2 separate regions of the Homo sapiens genome follow, and region 1 is linked to region 2. The links come from fine-mapping of genetic effects on gene expression. A gene starts in region 2. The other region holds a variant in brackets. All regions are shown on one strand. Distances are between the middles of the regions.

What was found.
Region 1: its variant is fine-mapped to the expression of SLC22A14 in cerebral cortex (GTEx, PIP above 0.99). The same link has a PIP of 0.9 or more in prefrontal cortex.

What each region holds. Positions count from the first base shown.
Region 1 is chr3:38,307,389-38,319,445 of GRCh38, reverse strand. SLC22A14 (solute carrier family 22 member 14) reads right to left here. Exons shown (of 11, transcript NM_001320033.2): 4 at 11,726-11,880; 5 at 10,324-10,492; 6 at 6,327-6,447; 7 at 5,961-6,058; 8 at 5,505-5,719; 9 at 3,735-3,888; 10 at 2,922-3,122; 11 at 871-1,248. The coding sequence ends at 1,197. Among named protein-coding and RNA genes, the nearest start is that of SLC22A14, 31 kb to the right of the region's middle. RefSeq lists an enhancer at 2,362-2,898. The variant C/T (reference allele first, on the strand shown) is at 5,712.
Region 2 is chr3:38,276,827-38,288,883 of GRCh38, reverse strand. It overlaps SLC22A14 (solute carrier family 22 member 14), which reads right to left and starts at 6,590. Exons shown (of 11, transcript NM_001320033.2): 1 at 6,545-6,590. It overlaps SLC22A13 (solute carrier family 22 member 13), which reads right to left. Exons shown (of 10, transcript NM_004256.4): 9 at 11,757-11,972; 10 at 10,127-11,512. The coding sequence ends at 11,419.

The sequences.
Region 1 (12,057 bases), 31 kb before region 2:
AAGCAGTGTGCTGGGCCAGAGTGCTGGGAATGCTGGAGGCCACTCCCTGCTTCACTGGACTCCAACCTGCCTGGGAGATCCATGGCCTTGCTGCCCTGGCTCCATGAGAACTGACTTGCTTATCTGTCTTCCTCCCTCAGAGGCTATGAGGAGTCGAACCAGAGCTATTCTCTGCAAGCCCATGATCTTCCAATAAACTAGGCAAGCGTGGAGGAGGTAAGACAGGGAGAGAGGAGGTAGTGCCGAAGGCCTGACCCAAGGACTTCACAGTCTGGTTGAGGAGTCCTGGGCCCTGCCTGGCAGAACCCCCATGCCAGCTGGGAAGGGCAGAATCACCTTCAGGGCAGTTAGGGTGTGAGCTGGGGTATGGGGGCTTATCCTCAGAGTGGTGGAGGCCAGAGGTCAGCTAGGGTGGAGTCATCAGGAAAGCATCCCCAGGGATGTGGACCGATTTGGGTAATTCCCAAGACCATGTTTATTTGCAGCATCAGCAGAAAGATGGTGAGAAAGCCCTATGCAATGGGACAAATGAGAGAAGTTCTCAATGTTCCTTTACATTCCATCCCTGCCCTGACTAGTGCATAAAATGGAGCTTTGAAATCTGTCCTCAGCCTGTGCTTCAGGTGGAAACTCGCCATGCTGGCGGATGCATGGGCTAGTGGGTATGGTTGGTGTGCAGGCACAGTCTTGCCCTCACTTCACCTCTGGCCCTCATAGACATTGCCCTCCCCACTCCCCTGCCCCCATCCAGAGAGCTCCTCACTGTCCCTGAACGATTAGACAAAGACACTAAGGAGTCTGTCTAACCCATCTTCCTCCAGGCCAGGGCCTCTGCATTCTCCACACATGGGCAACTTTGACCCAGCCATCTCAAGACCAACATTGTACCTTTATTGGAATGAATCACAGCAGAGCTCCTGCAGAAGGAGGGGGCATTTTTTTTAATGTCAAGGGCTGGCCTGGGAGAAGGACTGACCCTGCCCCCAGACTGAACTAGGCCTGGAATTTGTGGCCTGGAATCCATGACCCCATACTTGGCCACTCAATTCCAACCCAAGATGGTCTGGGGGCCTGGCCCTCAGGGAGCCTGGCTGTTTGCTTCCTCTTTATTGAATTGCTTCAAGGCAGGGTTGGAGACAGGGTATGGGTCCAATCTCAGGATCTGGGCATTGAGAATGACATTCTTGGCCGCTTCCTCAGACATCATCAGATGATGTTTCCTTAGTCTTCATGTCCTTGACCTTATTCCTGAAAGAGCCATCAGAGGATGAGTCCAGGGCCACATCTTTCTGGAAGCTGAGAAAAGCAGCGGCTTGTGCCTTCAGCAGCGCCCAACCCTGCGTTCCCAAGAGGTGAGGCTTTCTCACTCCGGCAGGTCCCCAGCCGAGCTTTGCCAGGAGCCTCCAGAATCAGGCCTGCTCCATCTCCCAACCCTTGCGAGACCCTTCTCTTTTCTGTCTTTGAAGTTGGTCCACCATCTTCACTGCTAGCATTTACTGAGCACTTGCCACATGCCAGACCCTGTGCCAGCTGCTTTATGTAGGTTTAATCCTCTCAAAAAAACCCATGGGAGAGGATGGCTGGGCTACATGGCCTTACCTCTCTGTGCCCCAATGTTCTCACCTGTAAAATGGGGATAGTGACAGAACCTACCTTGCATTTGATTGTTTTGAGGATAGAGCGAGATAAGGCATGTGTAGAACAGGGTCTAACACATAACAAATGCTCAATTCATCTTAGCTATTGTTATTACTCTGTTCTCATTCCACTTTGCAAATGAAGAAACTGAGTCTCAGAGGTATGAGGTAACTTCTCCGTGCACACACTAGGAAGTTGCGGCACATGGAACCTGTGCCCATAACCATTATCCTCTCTTCCCGTGCGGCGCTGAACTTCCTCTCTCTACAGTGGGGCAAGTTTCTATCCATCCTTCAAAGCCCTACTCAGTTGTCACTGTGACATTTTCTCCAACTCCCCAAATTAACGTTCTTCCCTTGTTAGGTTCCTACAGATCCTGTATATCCCACTGTCAGAGTCCTCTAGCAGGAACTGTTTGCATCATCTGTCTCCGCATAAGCTATGGTTTTCTCAAGGATGGGGAGTGCTGACCTCTGACCTTTGACAGTCAAGCCCTGGCACAGTGCCTAGCATGTGTGGTTCCAGTGAGAGCAGGGAGGGAGGGCAGGGGGAAGATGGTAGGGAGGAGGGCAGAGAAAGGCCAGAGGCAGTGACTGCTGTGGCACAGAGCAGAGGACACTCTAGGGCCTCGGGCAACCTCTGCTCCTCACTGGCGCTCAGGTCCCCTCAGGTCCAGGGAGAGCGTGTTCATTGGCCGAAAACCCAGAAGGAATGGTCCTGCCAATCATGACAAGTCTTCTCCAGGGGACACCTGGGAGATCAGAGGCCGGAAGTGCCCATGGAGGTGTTGGGTGGAACCCAGTTCCCAAATGGGGTCCTGGGCTGCTGGGGCCAAGAGGCCAGAGTCCTTCATCAAGACTGGGTTTTTTATGAAAACCAGGACTGAACTAGGAGTTCAGACAGGAAAAGAGATGTACTCAGAGTCAGTTCCAAGCCAGTCCCCTGTCCCTGGGAGGAGAGGGAGCCTCTGGGAGGAGTGCCCCTGGAGGGTATGCCCAAAGGCAATGCACCCATCCAGACAGGCAGGCAGGGGCAAGGAAAGGAGACGACATGGCCCAGTCCGGGTCAGGAGGGGCAGCAGGATGGGAACTGGCAGAGGCTGGGTGGGAGCAGGTAGACAGCAGCAGCCAGAGGAGCGGAGAGACTGCTGCGGACATGGCAGCCTTCGAGTCACAGGCTCTCCGGCAGAGGGGCGGGGATGGACAATGTCCCGCACGCTCTCTGTGCCAAGGCTTCAGAGCCAGGCCCCGTGCTGGCACAGCCCAGGAGGCTCCCACACCTACCTTATCTGTGAGGAGTGGTTCAGGCTCTCGGAGAGGGGCTGATCTCGCGTTTCCGGCAGCAGGGAGGAGAGGGAAAAGGCCACGATGGCTAAGACGCAGCAGAGAAAGATGGGCAGGAGGGAGGGGGTCTGGCTGATGATTGTCAGGGACAAGATGGCTCCAGCCACCGAGGCCAGAGACACCAGCCCCAGACCTGTCGCCCTGAAAGTGGAGGTGAGAGCTCCTGTGAGGGGTCTGCCGGGTTCAGAGGCTGGGCAGGGCCAGCAGCTACATGAAAACCCACACTCTCCAGTCTCCACCCTGTCCCATCCTCATTGTGTGATTCCAAGTAGGCAATAATTTCTTCTGGGCCTCCTTCAAGGGGGATGAGGAGGGGGAGAGGCAGAAACCATGCAGCATTATGTGGATGTGCGGGGAGAGGACACAGGCAGTGATGCCAGCCAGGCAGGAAGATAGTGCTCCCATCGCCAACCTCAGGGAAGGATCTGAGCCTCCAAGTGGCCCAAACACTTTCCAGGCAGTGAGTGCAAGGCAGGGGCTGGAGTCAGGCTGCCTGGGGCCAAATCCCAGCTCTGCTGCTTGCTCTGTCTGCCCTTAATCGAGTGCCTTTATCTGTCTGGTCTTGCATCTGAAATAGGGTTAGTGATGGCATTTGGGGGATTTTCTGGTGGTGTTTAAATGAGATCACTTATGTAAACTGTTTAGCACAGTGCTTGTCACCAGGTGAATGCTTGTCTTAGTTGCTGCATTAATCTTGTCATTGTCACTCCCTGCGCATGTCCCCATGGCCCCCTCGCCCACCAGACCCCATACCTGAGCACAGTGGGGAGGAGCTCAGCGGTGTAGAGGAAGAACACAGTGACAGTGGCGGCCAGGCTGAACTCTCTGAGCATGAGCACCAAGATCGTCATGGATTTCAGCTCTGTGGCCGGACAACGTGGCCACTTGAGTCTGAGGCCATCCTCCCCTGGGGTGGGTGAAGGAGTTCCACTCATCAGCCCTCCCTTGACCCCTCCCAGAAGGCATCTGAACAGCCTTCCCCACCACCTGCCCAGCTGGCCAGCAGGCTCAGGCATTCTGTCAGAGGAGTGGCAGGTTGTCAGAGGCCCAGCCAGGCTGGAAGGCAGGACATTTGCAGTGCAGAGTTAGTCAGCAGGGGTGGGGAGGTCCCCTGGGACACCCATGGCCTCTCAGGCCACTGTCTCCCATGCTACACCCAACACCCCCTTCTCTGCCTCCAAGGCTGTGTCTTCGTTCCACCTCCTCACCCAATTGCAGCTTCCTCACCCCACTGGGGATCCACTCAGGGCCAGGCCTGTGTCCTGTGGGTTGGGACCCCTGCTCAGGGCTGTACCACCGGGGCTCTGCAAGGTGGTCAGAGCAAGGGGGTGTTTGGTTCCTGGGGCCTGAATGGCTGGGATGGCTCCCAAACATTCCAGGATGTTCTCCGGCCAGCTAGACAGGCACAATGAAGGGGAAACTGGGGAAAGCCCATTCCTCAGACCTGGTGAAGCTGGGGGCTTCAGCCCCTGCCTGCCTGCCTGTCAGCCTCTGCAGGACCCTGCCCCGGCCTTACTCCCATTCCAGTCCTGGCTTTTCTTGTCTCTGGGATGAAATCAGAGATCCAGTTTTATCTACCGGGGAGTCCATTCCTAGTTTCTCTCACACTTCTGAGTTTACATATTGCTGCTTGACTCAGTGTAGACCTGCTTTTTTAAAAACCACCAGGCAATTAATATTCAATAATGAATTTGTTTCCACATTTTGTGTTAGCCAATCTACACTGCCAGCATCTGGGAGTGGAAGGGTCCTAATCCAGACACACACAATTCCAGCCCTGGAGAAAGGGAGGGAGCCCCTCCAGGCAGGGCCGGATCTAGCCTCCCCTGCCCTTGCTGCGACTGTGAAAGGGCTCCGCAGGCAGTCATTCTAAGTGCATGTGCTGCACAGATCGCTCCAGCTCTAGGACCTGTGGTGTATCCACTGTTTAGGGCTCTTTGAGATTCTGAAGATAACACCAGCCCTTCCTGTTTCCTTTTCTAGTGCTAAGCCAGCAGGAATGGGGCACTGAGCCCCTCTGGAAAGGAGGGGCCTCCATGCAAGAGCTGTTCCTGAGTGCTGAGCCCCATATTACACTCAATTTTTCAGTGGTCAGGTTATTCCTGGTGAAGCTACAGGGAACAACAGGCATTTCCCAGTCAAAGGGGCTACAGATGACAGGTGGGCCTGGGCAGCAGTTGAAGGAATATTTTTGCCATCATTTATTCACATGTAACCATTAGACCTACTTCTAAGGTGGATTGGAATCTGGTGGAAGAAGGCTGCCTGCTGTCCTCTGGAAAGTACACCCTCCTCTTTCAGGCCTCTGAGAGAGTGTGGGTGCCCTGTCTGGGGGACCCCACCCAGGAAGAGCAGTGCTCCAGGGATTGGAGGTGCTGGGGCCTCTGTGGGGTGGGTGGGCTATAGGTGCAGAAGGCTGATTCCCAGGGTGTCTAGGTGGCCGGCCGTGGCAGGCGGCACTGGGGAGGGGTTTTGGGAAGCAGGAAGGCTGTGGGCAGGCCACAGGGGAAGGATGAGCTGTACCTTCAGGGAGGAAAAGGAGAAGCAAGCACCAGATGATGGCTTGGAGGAGAGTCACAGCCAGGCTCCACTTCCTCCCAATCTGCTGGAGGAGAAAGATGCAGCACAGCCGGGCAGGCACCTCCATGATGCTGGGGACCACGTGTCTGAAGTGGACGCTCACGCCCAGCTCTCTCATTCTCAGGCTCAACGTAAAATAGGTGTAACTGA[C/T]GGTAAACCTGGATGAAGCCAGGAGGCAAGTGCGCGTGCACACGCGCGCACACACACGGAGCCAGGAATAAAGACAGAGGCAGAGCAGCAAGGGTCAGGGTAGGAACGGAGGAGAGAAATAAGCACAGAGACCTGTGATCTGTGTCCTTGGGCTGCCTCCCCTGCAGCCTGACCATTCCCATCCTCTCCCTAGAGTTTCCAGCCTGCGCACCTGTTCGCAGTCCCTGCCAGCGAGCCCTGGATACTCACCACACACAGCTCATCACCAAGGTCACCTTGCAGAGCTGCCTATTCTTACAGAAGTCCAGGACAGAGGCCCGAGTCACCTTCTTTCTGGGCAGCTGCAGCTACAGAACAAGCAGGACCAGTCAGAGGCAGGGCCAAGACCCCAGCTTGCTCCCCAGCCCCACAGCACCCACAAGGCCTGCCTGTCCCTGAAAGTGCCAGCTGGCTTCTGGCCTTCCCTGGCAGGGTTCAATTTTGCTGTCACCATTGTCCTTAAGCAGTGGACTGGGGGCACCCTCTGGACCAATGTCCCACCTGAAAGGATGAGGAGGGAAGGGGCCCTTCCACAGCCCACTGCTCCGGCCCCACTCCTGGCCAGAAGCCCTTTACCTCGTCCAGCAGATTTGAAGGAATGGTCTTCTTGTTCACACTTGCGGCGTAGCACAGCACCTGCTTGGCCTCCTTCACCTTCCCTTTCATCATCAGCCACCGCGGGGACTCCGGGAGAATCCTGCGTGGCCAGCCCCTCTCTTATCTCACCGTTCTATGATGCCCAGAGACCCCCTGCTGGCCCTCTCGTGGCCTCAGCTGTGGCCATCCTGTGCCAGCATGAGGTGATTCAGATGTCAGGGCCTTGAAGGCCACCACTGACCTCGAGCTGCCCTCTGCTCCTCCCTGGTGGTCAGCCCTTCCCCTGTCTAAGCCTCACATGGCCTCCACTGCTGCTAGGTAACACCCTGACCACCGGCTGCCTCTGTCTCCAGTCTCCTTGATTTGCCCTCAGTAATCACTGAGAGCTCTCTCCTTTTCTATCTAGGGGGCCACCCCTATCTGCTCAGGCATGCTGAGGGCTCCGACCTCCATGCCCACAGCCTCCTGTAGAGCCCCCATGCCCTTAGTTGGGATTTCTCCTGTTCCCTATCTGTCTCCCCAACAGCCTGAGGAGTGTGAGGGGGCAGGACCCTGGGTCTGACCCCAGTGCCCAGCACTCTGCCTGGGTGAATGGAGGGGTGAGTGAAGGTCTCTACTCTGTCCCATCTCTCCCCCGCCACATCTCTATTGCCTTTGACTTCAGAATAACTCCTCTCTGTTTTTTCCCATCCTCTCAGGCTGTCAGAATCCACACAGATTGGCATAAAAAGCACGTATGTGTGAAAAATGGTGCTTGGTGCCCTTGTATATATAGTCTTGTTTAATCCTCATCCAAACCTGGACCTAGTATGATTATCCCCATTTTACTCCCAGGCTCAAGGAGTAAAAGGCTTGCCCGAGGACACAGAGGCAGAGCTATGTACTTGGGGACTGGTACAGCCTCAGTCCCCTAAGGTGGTATAACTTTTTAATAAAACTGTGCCTGCTGATTTCTTATACCAGCACTCCCTCCCCGACCAGGACTCTGGCTGGTTGCCATAAACACACACTCAAGACACTAGAGACAACTTCATTCCTTATACCTGCCCTGCTCCTCCTCTCTCCCACCAGGGTTCAGCAATCAGTCATCATTTTCCACTCTAAGGCTGTGGAACTCTCCTAAAGAAAGCCATTAAACTGAGACTTCTTCAAAAAGATGGGGGATTGGCCTCATGTCCACTGAAAAAACAGGAATAAGAAAAGGATACCAACTCTCAGGGACAAAGAGAATGGGAGGGAGGACACAATGGGAGAAATGTAACAAATGCATTGAAGAGGTCATGAACAGAATGTTGACGTAAATATGGACAATAAAGACATTCTGATGAGGTCTCAGATGCAAATGAGGAACTATTAGAAACTGGAGAAATGGCAATCCTTGCTACAAAATGGCAAAGAGCTTGGCTGAACTGTATTCATGCCTTAGTGTTTGTGAAAGAAGGAACTTGTAAGTGATGAAATAGGACATTTGGCAGAAGAAGTCCCTAAGCAAAGTGTTGAGGGTGTGGTATGGCTTCTCTTGACTACTTATAGTAAAATGTGAGAAGAGAGAAACAAATTAGAATTTATAATTAAAAGGGAAGCAGAACTTAAAGATTTGTCAAATGCTCATGTTGGCCATGCTGTTTATTCATTTTCCATGAATAACAAAGTGTGTTTGGGAGAGAACACCAAGGATGTGGCCAAGCTACTGTTTGATAAGGAGGCCAGTACAAATCAGCGGAAGCCAGGCACTATCCTTGAGGACACTAAAAGAATAACCCCAAAGATACATTAGAGATCATTGGTACTGCCCCTTCCATCACAGGCCCAGACTGCCAAAGCCTAGGGGACACAACTAGGTCAAAAGAGGGACCTTCAGCACCCATAGTACATTGGTGCTCACTGCTAACAGCCTACCAATAGAGGCTGGGAATCCAGTTCATGGAAGTGACAGGGTCTTGAATCTCTCCTCCTCACTCCCCATACAACTCTCATCTACTCGAGCTAGGCAAAGGGGAGTTCAAGAGAACTCCTTAGATAGATGCGGGGACTGCCTTTGAAAAAGGACATCTGCCATCCCACTCTGGCTGGAACTTGCTAATTCAGAAACATGGGGGCTTGTCCTGGTATTCCAGACAGTGAGAGAGATTATAGGAGAGTTAATATGTGCCACCTGGAGTTTGAGGGCCTACATAAACCCGGAGAATGATGCCCATCTCTCATCTGGGTATAATGAAGGCAGGAGGTTGATTGGAGCAGCCCACCACAACAGGGTGGAGGCTGGGGAACAGTGGGGTTTTTTGGCCAAGTGGACCCTGCTGTCTTAAAGGCACCCCATGTGCTAGGATGAGGAGACCCCTACAGAAAGAGGTTATGGGGTGAACTGCCAGGGACAGGAGCTGAGGGAGGTCACAAACAGAGCACTGGGAGCATTAGGAAATTCCAATGCTCAGAAGACCCACGAATGGACCTGAGAGTGATGGTATTTGAATATCTACCCTACAGAGGACCCTGAGAGACTATAATAGCCCCTGCCATGTCAGTCTTTGGTCTATTTTATCTGATGTCCCTATCCCATGCCTAGAACCTGGAAAATCAGAACAAGGAGACAGGAGGAAGAACAATAGGTCAGAACAGACCTCATCCCCCTTGGCCACTATCCTGAGCGAGGGGCCAGGAAAAAGCTGTGGATCTGATGTAAGATTAAAGTTTTTAATTGAACTGGACTGAAATTTTTTTTAAACAGGATCTCACTCTTTTGCCCAGGCTGGAGTGCAGTAATACAATCATAACTCACTGCAGCCATGATCTCCTGGGCTCAAGTGATCCTCCCACCTCAGCCTCCCAAGTAGCTGGGACTACAAGTGTGTGCCACCATGCCTGGCTAACTTTAAAATTTTGTGTAGAGGCAGGGTCTTGCGATGTTGCCCAGGCTGGTCCCAAACTCCTAGCCTCAAGCGCTCCTCCCACCCCAGCCTCCCAAAGTGTTGGGATTACAGGCATGAGCCACTGCGCCCAGCCCCCATGCTGTTAACCCCATCTTTTATCATTCTTACTACATATGGTACAGTTAAAATGCAGAGGCTTTGGAGACAGCCCCTGAGTTCAAATCCCAGGTGCCCCACTTTCTAGCTGTGTGCTGTTAGACAAGTTATTTCCACCCTCTGAAGCCTCAGTTCTCCCTCCTCCCCACCTCCCATGACATGGGAATAGCATACTTCTTCTAGAGGGGTCAAGATTAAATGTAATAATTTCAAGATTAAATATGATCATTGCTTCATGCAGAACTGCCTAACCCTTCACACGTGGGTTCCTTCAGCTTCTTCTCACCTCCCTCTCTGCCTTCTGTTTTGTCCCTCTCTTTTCCCACCTGCCCAAGGTTAACCTTCTTTCTTTTGGCATCTCACTTTTGTTCTCAACCCTTATTCCTCCGAGTTTTGCCCCATCAGTTGTCCTCTCCCAGCTTTAATCTCTTAGGTTCCTGTCTGTGACTCCCCTACACTCAAAACATCTGATACTCTTCCCTGACTCTGTCTTAGTTGCCCATATAAATCATCCCTTTCTCCCTCTTTCTAAGAAAGTCATCTCCTGGCTGAATTTCTTCTGCTCCTAGTCACTCCTCAACCCTCTGCCACTGCAGTGAAGCCACCTCAAGAAGGTCACCAAGGCTGGCAGACCCTTTCCCAGCATCACCCCTCTTACCTTCAACACTGACCCTTCCCTTGGCCTTAACCCCTTGGCCTTCAACACTCTTCCTCCTGGTTTTCTGACCACCTCTCTAACATCTCTTTGAGGGTCTTCTCTGGGTCGGGGAGGAGGTTAATGCTGAGGTTCAGAGGCTCTGCCCTTGGTGCCTTCCTATCTCATCCCATCCACATGCACTTTCTCCCAGGGGAAATCCCACCCATTCCCACAGCTTCAAGGACCCTCCATACTCATCGACATCCAGCCCATCAGACCCAGCCCTGTACATGCCCGGTACTCGCTTGCTCACCAGATATAGGAGATGAAGGGGATCACAAGTATCCCACCCACCAGAAACAGCAGCTGCCAGTGGGGAAGACTGTAGGCGATCCCTGTCAGCAACACGGCCCCAACAGCGAAAAAGCAGTGTCCCAGGATAATGGCATGGGCCCGGTGCTCACCCACTAACCACTCAGTGGCTGTGCAGAGGCCAAGAGGACAAAACCATGGTTACGTCAGGGTCCCCAGGGCTGCCCTTGCATCCAGCCTTGCTGGGTGTCCCCACCTGCTCTGGACAGTTGAGATCAGGCAAAGCTTCTTCTGCTCGTCTCTGCACTGGGTCCAGAGACAGCCCCTCAGAGCCCGGTAGAGTGCCTCTGTTCCCGCCAGGGGACACCCTTATCTCCTAATCATATACACAGCTTCCATCCCGCTCCACCTGGCTGCTCCCTCTGCACATCCCCTGTCTGACCACGTGCCTCTTATAGAAAAGACGCAATACCAGACACGTGGCCTGACACATGGTCAGGCAAGGAATCATTGTCCTTGTTTTTGCTCTGAGTGTATTCGTGCTTTGGCCACCTAGGCCTAAGGCTCCCAATGAGAAGAGGTTCTCCTGCCAGGAAACCCCGAGCAACTAGGCAGCTGCAGCTATAAGGCTGCACTGGGTGCTTTAGTGTCTCATAGGCCTGGGTTGAAGTCCCAGCTTTTTCACTTAGTTGCCGTGTGGCCCTGTGCAAGTTGGTTAACTTCTCTGAGGCTAAAGAGTCCTCCTCAGCTGAAGGAGTAATAGAATAGTGCCTGCTGAAGACAGCTGCATCAGGAGGAAATGAGACAATGCATATAAAGGGCTCAGCAGCTGCCTGGCTTTTTCTTCTCCTTCTCCTTCTTCTTCTTCTTCTCCTCCTCCTCCTCTGCCACCACCACCTCCTCCTCTTCCTCCTTCTTTCTTTTTCTTTCCTCCTCCTCCTCCTCCTTCTTTCTTCTTCTTTCCTCCTCCTCCTCCTTCTTCTTCTGTTTTTTGTTGTTTTTTCTTTTGCCTGGCCTTTCTTAAGGGCTCAGTAAATGTAACCCATGGGGCTTGGGGGTATGCAAAGAGTATGCGGTGGAAGGTGTGGTGTATGAGGGAGTTAGGAAGGAGGATGAAGGTGGAAGGGCAGTCAGGGCACTGATTCTCTGACATCTCCAGGCAGCCAGGAACGGAGATCCCTTCCACTTCTGCCTGTCCAATTAGGCCCCTGACTCTGTGTCCTGTGGGATCCCAGCAGATGCCCACGCTGCCACACCCCCGCCATGCCCTCTTACAGCTACACCACGCCCCCTTGCCATCTGCCTATGCCGCCACGCCCCCTGCCACTATGTCCCCTTGTCACCCGCCTATGCCGCCATGCCCCTGTGCCACCCTGCCCTGCCCCATTGAGGCCCAGTCTCACCCAAAGAAATGCTGCTGATGGCGTAGCCCACCACTGACTGCGAGATGCCAAAGCGAAAGAACAAATACAGGTGAAAGCTGTTCATGAAGGCTGTCCCAAAGCCGAAGATGATCAGCCCCAGCAGTGACAGCAGGATGGCAGGGTAGCGGCCCATCCTACAGGTGTCAAAGGGAGGCTGCACCAAGTGCCGGGATCTCCCGGGCTGGCCCCAGCCGGATACACCTGGGCCAGGCCCTGAGCCATCCATGGGTCCCTGGAGAACCCCTACCCTCACCTCCCTCAGCCTGACACACTCCAACCCTGAATGCCCATGAGGAGGAGTTGGGATGGCT
Region 2 (12,057 bases):
AAAACCCTAAAATCATTTCAAACTAAGACGATTTTTAAAAACGGGAAACTTTAAAAGATACCATTTTTAATATTGAAATATAGATTAGGAACAATCTAACAAAATACATACAAGACACCCATTAGGATGACTATTATTAATTTTTTTAATCATTTCAAACTAACATGATTTTTTTAAATGGGAAACTTTAAAAGATACCATTTATAATATTGAAATATAGATTAGAAACAACCTAACAAAATATGTACAAGACACCCATTAGGATGACAATTATTAATTTTTTAAAAGAAAAGGAAACAAATATTGGTGAGGATGTGGAGAAATTCGAACCCTTTTGTATTGGAATGTAAAAGGGTGTAGCCACCATGGAAAACAGTATGATGGTCCCTAAAAAAATTAAAAATAGGAGTACCATTTGATCCAACAATCTAATTCTGGGTACATACACAAAAGAATTGAAAGCAGGAGCTCAAACAGATTTGTACACCCATGTTCACAGCAGCATTGTTCACAATAGACAAAAGGTGGAAGCAACACAAATGTCCATGGATGGATGAATGGATAAAGAAAGTGTGGTGTATACATACAATGGAATATAGATCAGCCTTAAAAATGAATAAAATTATAATACATGTTACAGTATGAATGAACCTTGAAAACATTCTGCTAAGTGAAATACCAAATCACAAAAGGACATGTATGATTACACTTATATGAGGTACCTAGTCAAATTCATAGACACAGAAAGTAGAATGGTGGTTACCAGGGACTGAGGGAGGAGGAAAAGGGGAGTTATTATGTAGTAGGTACAGAATTTCAGCTTGGGAAAATGAAATCGTTCCGGAGATGGATGGTAGTGAGGGTTGCACAATGATGTGAATTACTTAATGCCACTGAACTGTGCACTTAACAATGGTTAAGATGTTAAATTTTGTGTTGTGTATATATTACATTTTAAAAAATGGTTTAAAAATATGCACAAGACCTATGTGTAAAATAATGATAAAACATACAGAAATATATGAAGAAAGAAAAGTAAATGTAGAGCTATCTCATGGTCATGAATAAAAGTTGTCAGTTCTCCATATTGATCTGTAGATTCAACACAACTCTAGTCAAAATCCAAAAGGTATTTTTTATAAAATTATTTTTGGCAAGAAGATTCTAAAATGTATATTGAAGGACAAAGGGCATAAATACCTAAGAAAATTCTGAAGAATAATAAGAATGATGTGCCCTGCAAATTATCAAACTTTATTATAAAGTTATATGAATTAATGAGAATATGCCAACATAGAAATAGCTAATAGAAAGCCCAGAAATATATCCATGCAAATTTAAAGTTTTGATATCTGAGAGGGGAGTGGCATGATAGGTCAGTAAATGGAAAAATAAATTAAAATTAGATTCATCATATCATAAACAAAAATTCCAGCCCTATTAAGGCCTTAAATTTCAAGAACAACACTTTTAATAGAAAATATAAGGGAATCTATTTCTGACTTTCAGGTGAGGAAGGATTTCCTAATCAAGACACAAAAACTATGCTGTTTTGTGCTAACCACAAAATTTTAAATTTATAAATTTGACTACAGGTATATAAGAATGTGTAAATTGTAGTATATTTATACAGTGAAATACAATATAGCAATATTAAACTTGCCAAATTTAGCAATATAGCAGTTTTAAGCAGACAAAACTTAAAAATGAAAATCTTAAAGTGGAAAAAAACTGGACACAACTGGAAGGAGATATTTGCACACACACACACACGCACACACACACCTATATCTGAAAAAGGACTAGGATCAAGACTATGTAAAGAGTATGTACAGAACCACAAATCAAGCCAAGCACAGTGGGTCACACCTGTAATCCCAGTACTTTGGGAGGCCAAGGTGGGTGGATCACCTGAGGTCAGGAGTTCAAGACCAGCCTGGCCAATGTGGTGAAACCCGGTCTCCAGTAAAAAAAAAATACAAAAATTAGCCAGGCATGATGGTGCACACCTGTAATCCCAGCTACTCGGGAGGCTGTGGTAGGAGAATCACCTGAACCCAGGAGGCAGAGGCTGCAGTGAGCTGAGATCTGGCCACTGCACTCCCACCTGGGCAACAGAGCAAGACTCCATCTCAAAAACAAACAAACAAAAAAAAAACCCACACAAATCAGGGCCAGGCACGGTGGCTCACGCCTGTAATCCCAGCACTTTGGGAGGTCGAGGTGGGTGGAATCACCTGAGGTCAGGAGTTCGACACCAGACTGGCCAACATGGTGAAACCCAGTCTCTACTAAAAATACAAAAATTAGCCAGGCGTGGTGGCACACGTCTGTAATCCCAGTTACTCGGGAGGCCGAGGCAGGAGAACTGCTTGAAGGAGGCAGAGGTTGCAGTGAGCTGAGGTGGTGCCACTGCACTCCAGCCTGGGTGACAGAGCGACTCTGTCTAAAAAAAAAAAAAAGAAAAGAAAAGAAAAATGGGCCAAAGACCTGAACAGGTATTTTACGAAGAGGAAACTCGTGTGGCCTACAAACATGTGAAGATGCTCAACCTCTTTAATAATGAGGGAAATGCAAATCAAGACCATGGTAGGATATTTATACTCATTTGATTGACAAAACTTTAGAAGTTTTTTGTTTTTTGAGACAGTTTTGCTCTTGTTGCCTGGGCTGGAGTGCAATGGCACAATCTCAGCTCACCGCAACCTTCACCCCCTGGGTTCAAGCAATTCTCCTGCCTCAGCCTCCCAAGTAGCTGGGATTACAGGCGCGCACCACCACACCCGGCTAATTTTGTATTTTTAGTAGAGACTGGGTAGGACGGGTTTTCTCCATGTTGGTCAGGCTGGTCTTAAACTCCCAACCTCAGGTGATCTGCCCACCTCGGCCTCCCACAGTGCTGGGATTACAGGTGTGAGCCATCATGTCTGGCCAAATTGAGAAGTTTGATAACACCAAGTGGTGGAGAAAACTATCTTGCATACATTCCTGGCAGAATTATTCATAGACCCACTTTGGAAAACAATTTGGCATTGTCTTATAAAGTTGAATACCTGTATACCTTATGACCCAGCAATGCTACCCCCAGGTATATACTCTAGGGAGCCATTTGTACATATGATCCAGGAAATAAGTACCAAAATGTTCATGACACTTTTCAACTGTGAAAAAAGAGCCCAAATGCACATCAATGAAAGAATGCCTAAATTGTAGTAGATTTATATAGTGGAATACAATATAGCAATGAAAATGAAGAAGCTTCAGCTCCATCCATCAACCTGTATGAGTCTCAAAAACAGGATGTTCAGTGAAAAAAGTAAGCCTCAGAAAACTGATGCTCTTTTTATAAAGTTTGGAAACAAGCAAGACTAAAGAAATAATTTCAGTATGTCATGCAATAAAACTATAGATTTTTTTTAACAGCAAGGATGAAATTCAGGAAACCATCTCTGAGGGGAGACAGAGGAATGATGTCAAGGAAGAGGTGGACTGAAATCATTAGAAATGTTCTGGTGCTTTGGGTGGGTGATGGATTCACACGTGTCTGTTTTTATTTTGAAAAAATATTGTGCCCAAGGACCCTCTCCTGAAACATCCACTCCTGCTCTTCCTGCAGGGCCCCCTCCCCTCTGCTGGAGACTGATAAAGGCAGCAGTCCCCCACTGTGGTGGGGGTATCCCCTGTTTAGTGTAGTGAACTTCTGCCTGCTACTACTTGCTCTTAGTATTTTCCACAGCCAAAACTCATCTTCACATTGATCATGTTAATGGCTACGGAATCTTTGTTAAGGTGCTGTTTACTTCATGGTAGCTACTGGGCACCAAGGCTGTTTCTCACTGCTTCCTCACTACCCCAGACAACTTTTCTGTACACATTATGGTGCAGAAGGCTGTCTTTCTTCCCTGGGCTAAGGTCCAAGAAGTAGGATTGTTTATATGGCTCTTATAACATAGGCTCGTAATGTCCTCCGGAAAGAGCAACCCATTTCAGAGTCCACAACAGTTCACGAGGTGTCCATTTCCTTACAGTCCCACCAGCAGCATTGGGTCTTATAATTTGTATTGCTTTTCGGTCATTTCGTAGTATGATGAGAACCCTTGTCTCTGTTCTTGTGATTTTTTTTTTTTAATTTTGTGGGAGGCTGATCACCCACATTGTCAGGCCAGGTGTCCTTGAAGGGGACATTCTTCCATGTATTCTCACATTTCCTACGCTCTGGTCCTTCGTCTCACGGGAACTTGCTCCCTAAGCACTGCAGAAGACACTGAGGCATATTGTAATGATTAGCGGAGGCCTCCTTTCTAAGTTCTTCCTCTCATTTCTGCCAAGATCCCTGCACATTCCCAGCATTCTGGGAAAGTTTCTTCAGAGAATTCTTTAGAGGACGGGCCTTGGCTGGGACACCAGGGGCCCTTGCCTGGCTGGGGATGGCACTGTGGTGGGCCTAGAGGGCAGGGATCTGTGGGGAGGCCGAGCTGCATTCGCCAAATCTATCCCTCTTAGGCCGGCCCTGGAGGAGTGACCCAGCCTGGCCCCCAGCCCCCATGGGGTCCTCACCTGGGCATGTCACCAAGCTGCCCCACTAGCCCTAGCCAAGGCTAGGGCCACTTTCAGAAGCCACCATGAGCCCCTCGCTCTACTATCGGACAGGGCGGACAGGGATGGAGAAGAGCTGTCTGCTTGAGGAGGAGTCCCCTTTCCCTCTTGGGCCCCTAGTTTTCTACCAGTCACACGAGGGGGATGCCTCCTTCTCAGACTGCGACTGCTGTTCCATAATCCAGGGAAGAGGTCTCCAGCTCATCGTCTACGGGACAAATCCAGCCTGCAGACACATTTCCCTTGGCTAGCCCATTTGGTGCCTCACTGTGTCTTGGAATGTGATTTAACTGCCAAAAGTTGATTTCACATAAATGCAGCATTTTCTTTTTGAAGTTTGGCCAATGGGACAGCATTCCCATCTGGCAACAATTAGCAAATCTGAGCAGGGGCCCCTCCTTTAGACTGAGAGTCTGCTCTGTTTTTTGTTATTATTGTTGTTGTTGTTGTTTGTTTGTGAGACAGAATCTCGGTCTGTCACCCAGGCTGGAATGTAGTGGTGTGATCTCGGCTTACTGCACCCTCTGCTTCCTGGGTTCAAGTGATTCTACTGGCTCAGCCTCCCGAGTAGCTGGTACTACAGGTGCAAGCCACCACGCCTGGCTAATTTTTGTATTTTTAGTAGAGATGGGGTTTCACCATGTTGGCCAGGCTGGTCTCGAACTCCTGACCTCAAGTGATCTTCCCGCCTCGGCCTCCCAAAGTGCTGGGATTACAGGCGTGAGCCACTGCACCCGGCTCCTGCTACTTCTGATGTGTGCATGCAGGAGGCCCAGCAGAGCCCAGCACCATTTCCCCATTTCACTTGTCTTTGCCTCCTGCCTGGCCCTGAGTTCGGGATCCCTTATCTCAGCAGAATTTGGAGGTGCATAAGAGGCAGGGAACACAGAGGGAGAGCATGCTTAGATGTGTGTGTGCTGGGAGGTGGGGGAGGCTGCATAAGCGCCCCCCGGAGAGATCTATGCCTAATCCTCAGAACTCGTAAATATGTTTCCTTACATGGCAAGGGGGGTTAAAGTTACAGATGAAGTTAAGGTTACTACTTAGCTGACTTTAAAATAGATTATCCTGGATTGTCAGGTAGGTCCCATTAATCCCAGGATCCTTAAATGCATAAGACCCAAAGAAATGCAGCGTGATAAAGATTTGGGCAGCCGTCGGTGGCTTTGAAGATGCAAGGGGTCCCAGAGCCAAGGAATGCAGGAGGCTCTAGAAGCTGGAAAAGGCAAGGAAGGAAATGAGCTCTGCCCTAGAGCCTCCAGAAAGGAAGGCAATCCTTCTGAGACCTTGATCTTAGCCTGCTGAGGCCCATTTGTTCTTCTGACCTCCAAAACCATAAGGTAATAAGTCTCTGCTGTTTCAAGCCACTAAGTGTGGGCATTTGTTATAGCAGCAATAGGAAACCAATACAGGATGTATGTGTGTAAGGCTGGAGAGGGTGGAGGTGGATAAAGGAGACTTTCCAGGGAGGGAGAGCCTCCGCTGTCCTCTCAGAGATGTGGCTTCTGGACCAGAGCCATCTGTACCAGCCTCCCTCTGCAGGGACCGCTTCAGCATCCCCCAGCACCACCTGATACCCCAATACCCTGGAGCACTCACTCCCTCTACTCATCCCAAAGGTCCTCTGCCAGGTGGACAGGCCCCAGGCAATTGGCTCTCAATGTGCCAAAGAGGTAACTGAGGCCTGGGAGAAGCATAGCCAGGAGGAGCACTCCACCTGCCGCAGGAGATGGCCAGACGCCACACCTGAGAACTCACGCTTTCTGGGAGGGCAGCCCGCTCCTTCCACAGATTCCCCACAGCCAAACAGGCCCAGGCAGGCTCCTGTCCACACCTGTGCTGAGAACGCGGCCGCAAAATTGCCAGGGGTCATCATAATTTCTACTCTCCACACCCTCCCGGCCCTGCCTCCCTGTAGGCAGGACCGCAAGCCAAAGCCAGGGCCCACCTGACCACAATCCAGGCCCAGCCAGACCCTTGGAAGCAGAACCTTTGAGCTCCACTGGTGTCCAGGAAGTAGTGTCACAATGGGGTGGGGAGGTCCTTGGGGTGAGCTGGGAATGGTGAGGGTCAGCATTCTACTCCAGGGACACAACTGGCTGTAGCCTCCAGGGGCAAGGCAGGTCAGGAAAACTGCCACACGAACCCCCCTGCCCCTGTCTTTGTGCAGGCTGTTTCCTCCACACGAGGGCTCCACCTCCACTCTCGGAAATTCTCCTGTCCTTCCAGATATCACTCATTTATCAACTATCCTTCAAGCCTTCCTGAGCCCACAGCTGGAAATGGCTTGGCCCTACCCCACTCACTTCTGCTCTGTCTCTCCGTGACACTCCCCTGCCAACCAGCCTTGGTCAGAGCTGCCGGGGTCTGACCCATCTCCCCCATAAGCTAGAAGCCTCCTCTGCCAGATTGCAGGAACAGGGCTTCAAGCTTCATGCTTGGGGGAAGGGAGGCCAAAGTGGCAGGACAGGAAAACCAGCACAGGGCCTAGTACAAGGCAGACCATCCTTGTACCAGTACAGCATGTACTTAGGACCTCAACAAAATTAGAGCATTGCTATGGCTTAATATTTGTCCTCTCCAAAACTCATGTTGAAACTTCATCTCCAGTGTGGTAGCGTGATGGGGCCTTTAAGATGTAATTGGGTCATGAGTGTAATCTGTTAATCCATGAATCACCAATCATGGATTAGTAGATTAATGGGTTAATGAGTTATGAGAATGGGACTGGTGACTTTATAACAAGAGGAAGAAAGACAAGCTAGCTTGCTCGGTTCCCTCACCTGTGCCCCCTTGGGAGACTGCAGAGTTCCCAACAGCAAGAAGGCCCTTACCAGATGTATTCCCTAAACCTTGGACTTCCCAGCCTCCAGAACTGTAAGAAATAAATTTCTTTTCTTTATAAATAACTCAGTTTCAAGCAGTCTGTTATAAGCAACAGAAAATGGACTAACACAGACACTTAAGACACAAAAAAAAATTAAAAGAATTTCATATATTTGAAAAAAAATGAAGTATTGATCACAGGGAAACCTACTTACAGCTCTTTTGCAGTTTCCTATGGCTCAATCTTCACTTGTTTGGGGGCAGGGCACTGCAATCTTATTGGTATCTGGGGCATCAGATCCTTCCTCTTTCACCAGACCTCCCTCGGGGTGTCTGCAGGTCACCTCAGTGGTTGGTCCTAGGCCCCTCATCCCCCCTAGAGTTCCCCACTCTTGAGCAGCAGCACTCTGGGGGTCAAAGGGACCAAGCAGACAGCACAGTGAGCACCCAGAAGCCATCAGTGAGACTGAAGAGCAGGGTGGGAGCACCCCTTTGTTTTGGTTTGTTTTGGTTACATAAGATCCCAGAACTCGGCTGGGCATGGTGGCTCACGCCTGTAATCCCAGCACTTTGGGAGGCTGAGGCAGACGGATCACCTGAGGTCAGGAGTTCAAGACCAGCCTGGCCAACATGGCAAAACCCTGTCTCTACTAAAAATACAAAAATTAGCCTGGCGCAGTGGCGCACACCTGTAATCCCAGTTACTCGGGAAGCTGAGGCAAGAGAATCGCTTGAACCCAGGAGGCAGAAGTTGCGGTGAGCAGAGAATTGCACCACTGCACTCCAGCCTGGGTGACAAACTGAGACTCCTTTTCAAAAAAAAAAAAAAAGATCCCAGAACTCTCTGGGTTGAGAAGAGCCCCAATAACAGCTGAGATGAATTTCCAATCAGCTCAGCAAGATGGAGGCTCATAGGCTAAAGAAACATTCTGTTGCCTGCAGATATGAGTTTACAGAACAAATATTCATACCAGCTACAAATGTTGATTGCCTTTGTTAAAAATTTAGGAGGTCATTTTTGTTTCCCTTGGTTACAGGTTGAGAAAACTAGTAAATATGAGGGTCAGATTGTTTCTAGGCAGAAAGGGGCTTGCTGTTCAATGTGCTAGAAGCCAATATGATGACACCGGGTTTTTGAGAAAAGAAAAGCTTGTAATTATAGGCCGGCCGACACGGAGACAGGAGTCCAGCTTGAATCTGTCTCCCTGGGCTGGTGCTAAGGCAGTGTTTTTATTAGAAAAGGTGTCGGGATTCTGAGATTAGCAGGTGATTAGTGGAAGGAAAGAGGAGGCCTGGAAAGTCCTCCAGCATGCGCAGTTCTCTTCATGACACCTCATAGATCACATGGGCAGGTACGGGGGGAGTGAGTATGAAACACGCAGTGGAAATTCAGGCTGTGATGTCAGCAAGCAGGTACTGCACAGACTCTAGTTGGCCACATTGGTTCCAACCTATTTTAGCCAGCTTTGTTGTCTTACAAGTGGAGGGACTTTCAGCATCTCAGCAAGTTGTTTCTTTGCTTACCTACCATCCTGCAAACTCAAGAATTTCTGTTAGTCATTGGTGTCTTTAACTGTTTGGGGCACAGTTTCGCTTTCACACACCTGGACTAAATGTTTAGGACTGATAGTCACCATTGCCGTAACCTTTGAGGAGCAAAATCAAGGAGATACACAACCAGGGTCCAGTGAAGCTGCATATCTTCTCCTTCAGAGTCCCAGAGGCCTCAGCAGCCAACCTCCCATCAGTGACTGCTAAAGGACACTTACCCATTCATCAGAGCAAACCACAGGACACTTTTAAATACACACAGAAAAAAAAAAAAATCTTTCTCCCCAACCAACCATAATCCCCCCAAAAAGGAAAGAAAAAGTCTCCAGGGACCAGGCATGGTGGCTCATGCCTGTAATCCCAATACTTTGGGAGGCCGAGGTGGGCGGATCACGAGTTCAGGAGTTTGAGACCAGCCTGGCCAACTTGGCAAAACCCCATCTCTACCAAAAATACAAAAATTAGCCAGTCTTGGCCATTCAGGTCTCTTCCTGGGAATGACAATCATTCCGTCTTAAAGGGAGCAAGTGTCCATATCTTAGAGGAGGAAACTGCCTTTAGCTGGGAAATGGCCCTTTCCCCACTTCTATCTGGTTTTCCGCACCCCTTGGCAGTTTCAGCCTGAGAGACACATTGTGCCCAGAAAGACTTGCTAGTATTCCCCAAGAGGATGCCATGAATGGGCACACAGTAGGAAGCTAAATAGAGCTTTTGTCTAGCACTTCAAAGCTGAGAATCGTGAGTGAGGAATATCCATGTGTTTGGAAGACAGGTGCTGAACACTTCCATGCTGGGTTTACAGGAAACTGGTCCAGCATCTACGCCCAACCCCGAACCAGCCATGCAGGAGAAGGTGAGCAAGCTGGGGTGCCTGTGAGAAGAGAGACTGAAACCTTCTCCCTAGTGGGAGGTTAGCTGGGGCAAGGCAGGGGCAGTGGCCAGGCAAGCTCTTTTTCTATCTACCATTTGGTGACACAATGATATATGGTGTTCTTGCAGGCTAAGGAGGTGCTGAGGAAGGCAGTCCGGCTTGAGGTCTCTTTATGGGCGCCCATCTAAGAAGGCCATCTTTTTTTTTTTTTTTTTTTTTTGAGATAGAGTCTCTTTCTGTTGCCCAGGTTGAAGTGCAGTGGTGCGATCTTGGCTCACTGCAAACTCCGCCTCCCAGGTTCAAGCGATTCTCCTGCCTCAGCCTCCCAAGTAGCTGGGATTACAGGCATGCACCACCATATAGGGCTAATTTTTGTATTTTTAGTAGAGACAGGGTTTTGCCATGCCAGCCAGGCTGGTCTCAAATTCCTGACCTCAGGTAATCCGCCCGCCTCAGCCTCCCAAAGTGCTGGGATTACAGGCATGAACCACCACGCCCAGCCAAGAAGGCCATCTTGGTTGGGTCAGGGGCTGCCAGCTGTAGGACAGGTTGTAGGAGCAATGCTGGGTGGGGCTGGAGAAGGGTCCCAAGAGGAGCTGGGAGTGCATTGGGAGCATATTGCTCATTCTAAGGAACAATACCAAGGCCTGAGAAGATCTCTGAGAAGCCCAAGAAGATGGCCCGTGGAAAAGGCAGCTTTCAGAAGCCTGACAAAACACACCAACTGGCATTAGCCAATGTGCACCAGAAAGAACTGCAACCAGCAGCAGCTCGGTGAAAAGACCTCTACCCTTTCCCTCACCCTGCATGGGCCCTGGAAGGTCCAGAAGCAGCTGAGCATGAGCAGGAGGAGGCGGGGTGAGGCGGGGAGCAGAACAAACCTCCTTTCCTTCCCCAAGCTGGTCCCTGAGCCACACATAGGTTAGGCATGAGCTGAGTGTAGGGCGGGGGTTGGGCCATCTTTGAAGTGAACACAAGGTGGAAGTTTTGATTTAGGCTGAACTGAATCTTCTCTCTGTATGACCCAGTGACCTATGGGGCCATACGTTAGCCAGAGGAATCTGGTCCATCCGCTAGAAGGAATCATAACCTTCCTTTTATCCACAGCATTTTCATCCACCTGCCTGGGTAGAGTCCACAACTTCACATTTGTTTCCTCTCCCCTCCTGTTCCCACAAATTGGAAAGGGCTTACCTTGTGTTCTGTTCTGAACATCACTGTGTTTTGAGGGCAGGGGACTCCAGATTGAGGAGATCAAGAGAGCCATACCCCATGAAGATTGTTAGAGGACAAGTTAATTCCAAGACATACCCAAGATCCTAACCCAGACAGAGTATTGGGGGCAGGGCTCTGGAGATGAGAAAGGTGAAGGAGGCCGGGAGGTCCTGTCTCAGATGGTGGTTCCCAGTCTGGGATTGGACTCGGCAGGAGGTGACAGCCATGGGCCAGATTGTGGTGTCCTGCCTCCATAAGCAAGGCTGGTCTTGCCCTGTGTCCCTGTGGGTCCTGGCCATATCCAAGGAGGTGTTTAGGCAGCTCCCTGCTGCTGATGGTCCAGCTCTTAGAGACCTCAATCAGAAGTATGTGCTGCTCACAAAGGCCACTCCCGGGCTGGAAGTTCTTCCCTTGGCCTCTGTTTCCTTCTCTGAGGGCACTGATTTGGGGGACCTAGAGGGAGCAGAAGGCTGTCATTGGCTGCCCAGGAATTGGTCCCATGACAGTGTCCTCACCACCTCCCTCCTCAAAGTAAGGGGAATCTGAACTAAAGCCAGCCAGATGTCTGTGGTTCTGGAGGACCCCATATTAGCCTCTAGGCAACAGTGGACGAGTGATGAGGTGGAGGCCTGGGCATATAGAGTGCGTGGCCAATGTGAGACCCAAGTCGTGGTTTCAGTGCAAGCAAGCAGCTCACCGTGGGTGAGGCCCCAGCTCCAGGTCCTGGAGGGTGTCTTTCAGGCCCTGGCCATGCGTCTCTGGCAGCAGGGTGCACAGCAGGCCGGCCACGATGGGGAGGCTGCCGTAGATGAGCATGGGGAGGGCAGCGTGGTACTCTCCCAGCAGGATCACAAGTGGTGTGAGGATGCCCCCGATCCGTGAGAAGATGCCCACCAGCCCCATGCCTGTCTGCCTGGGGGAAGACCAGGGCAAGCTAAGTAGACCTGGGCCCAACTCTGGGCCTCAGCTTCACCCTAGTATATTTCCTCGGGAGAGTC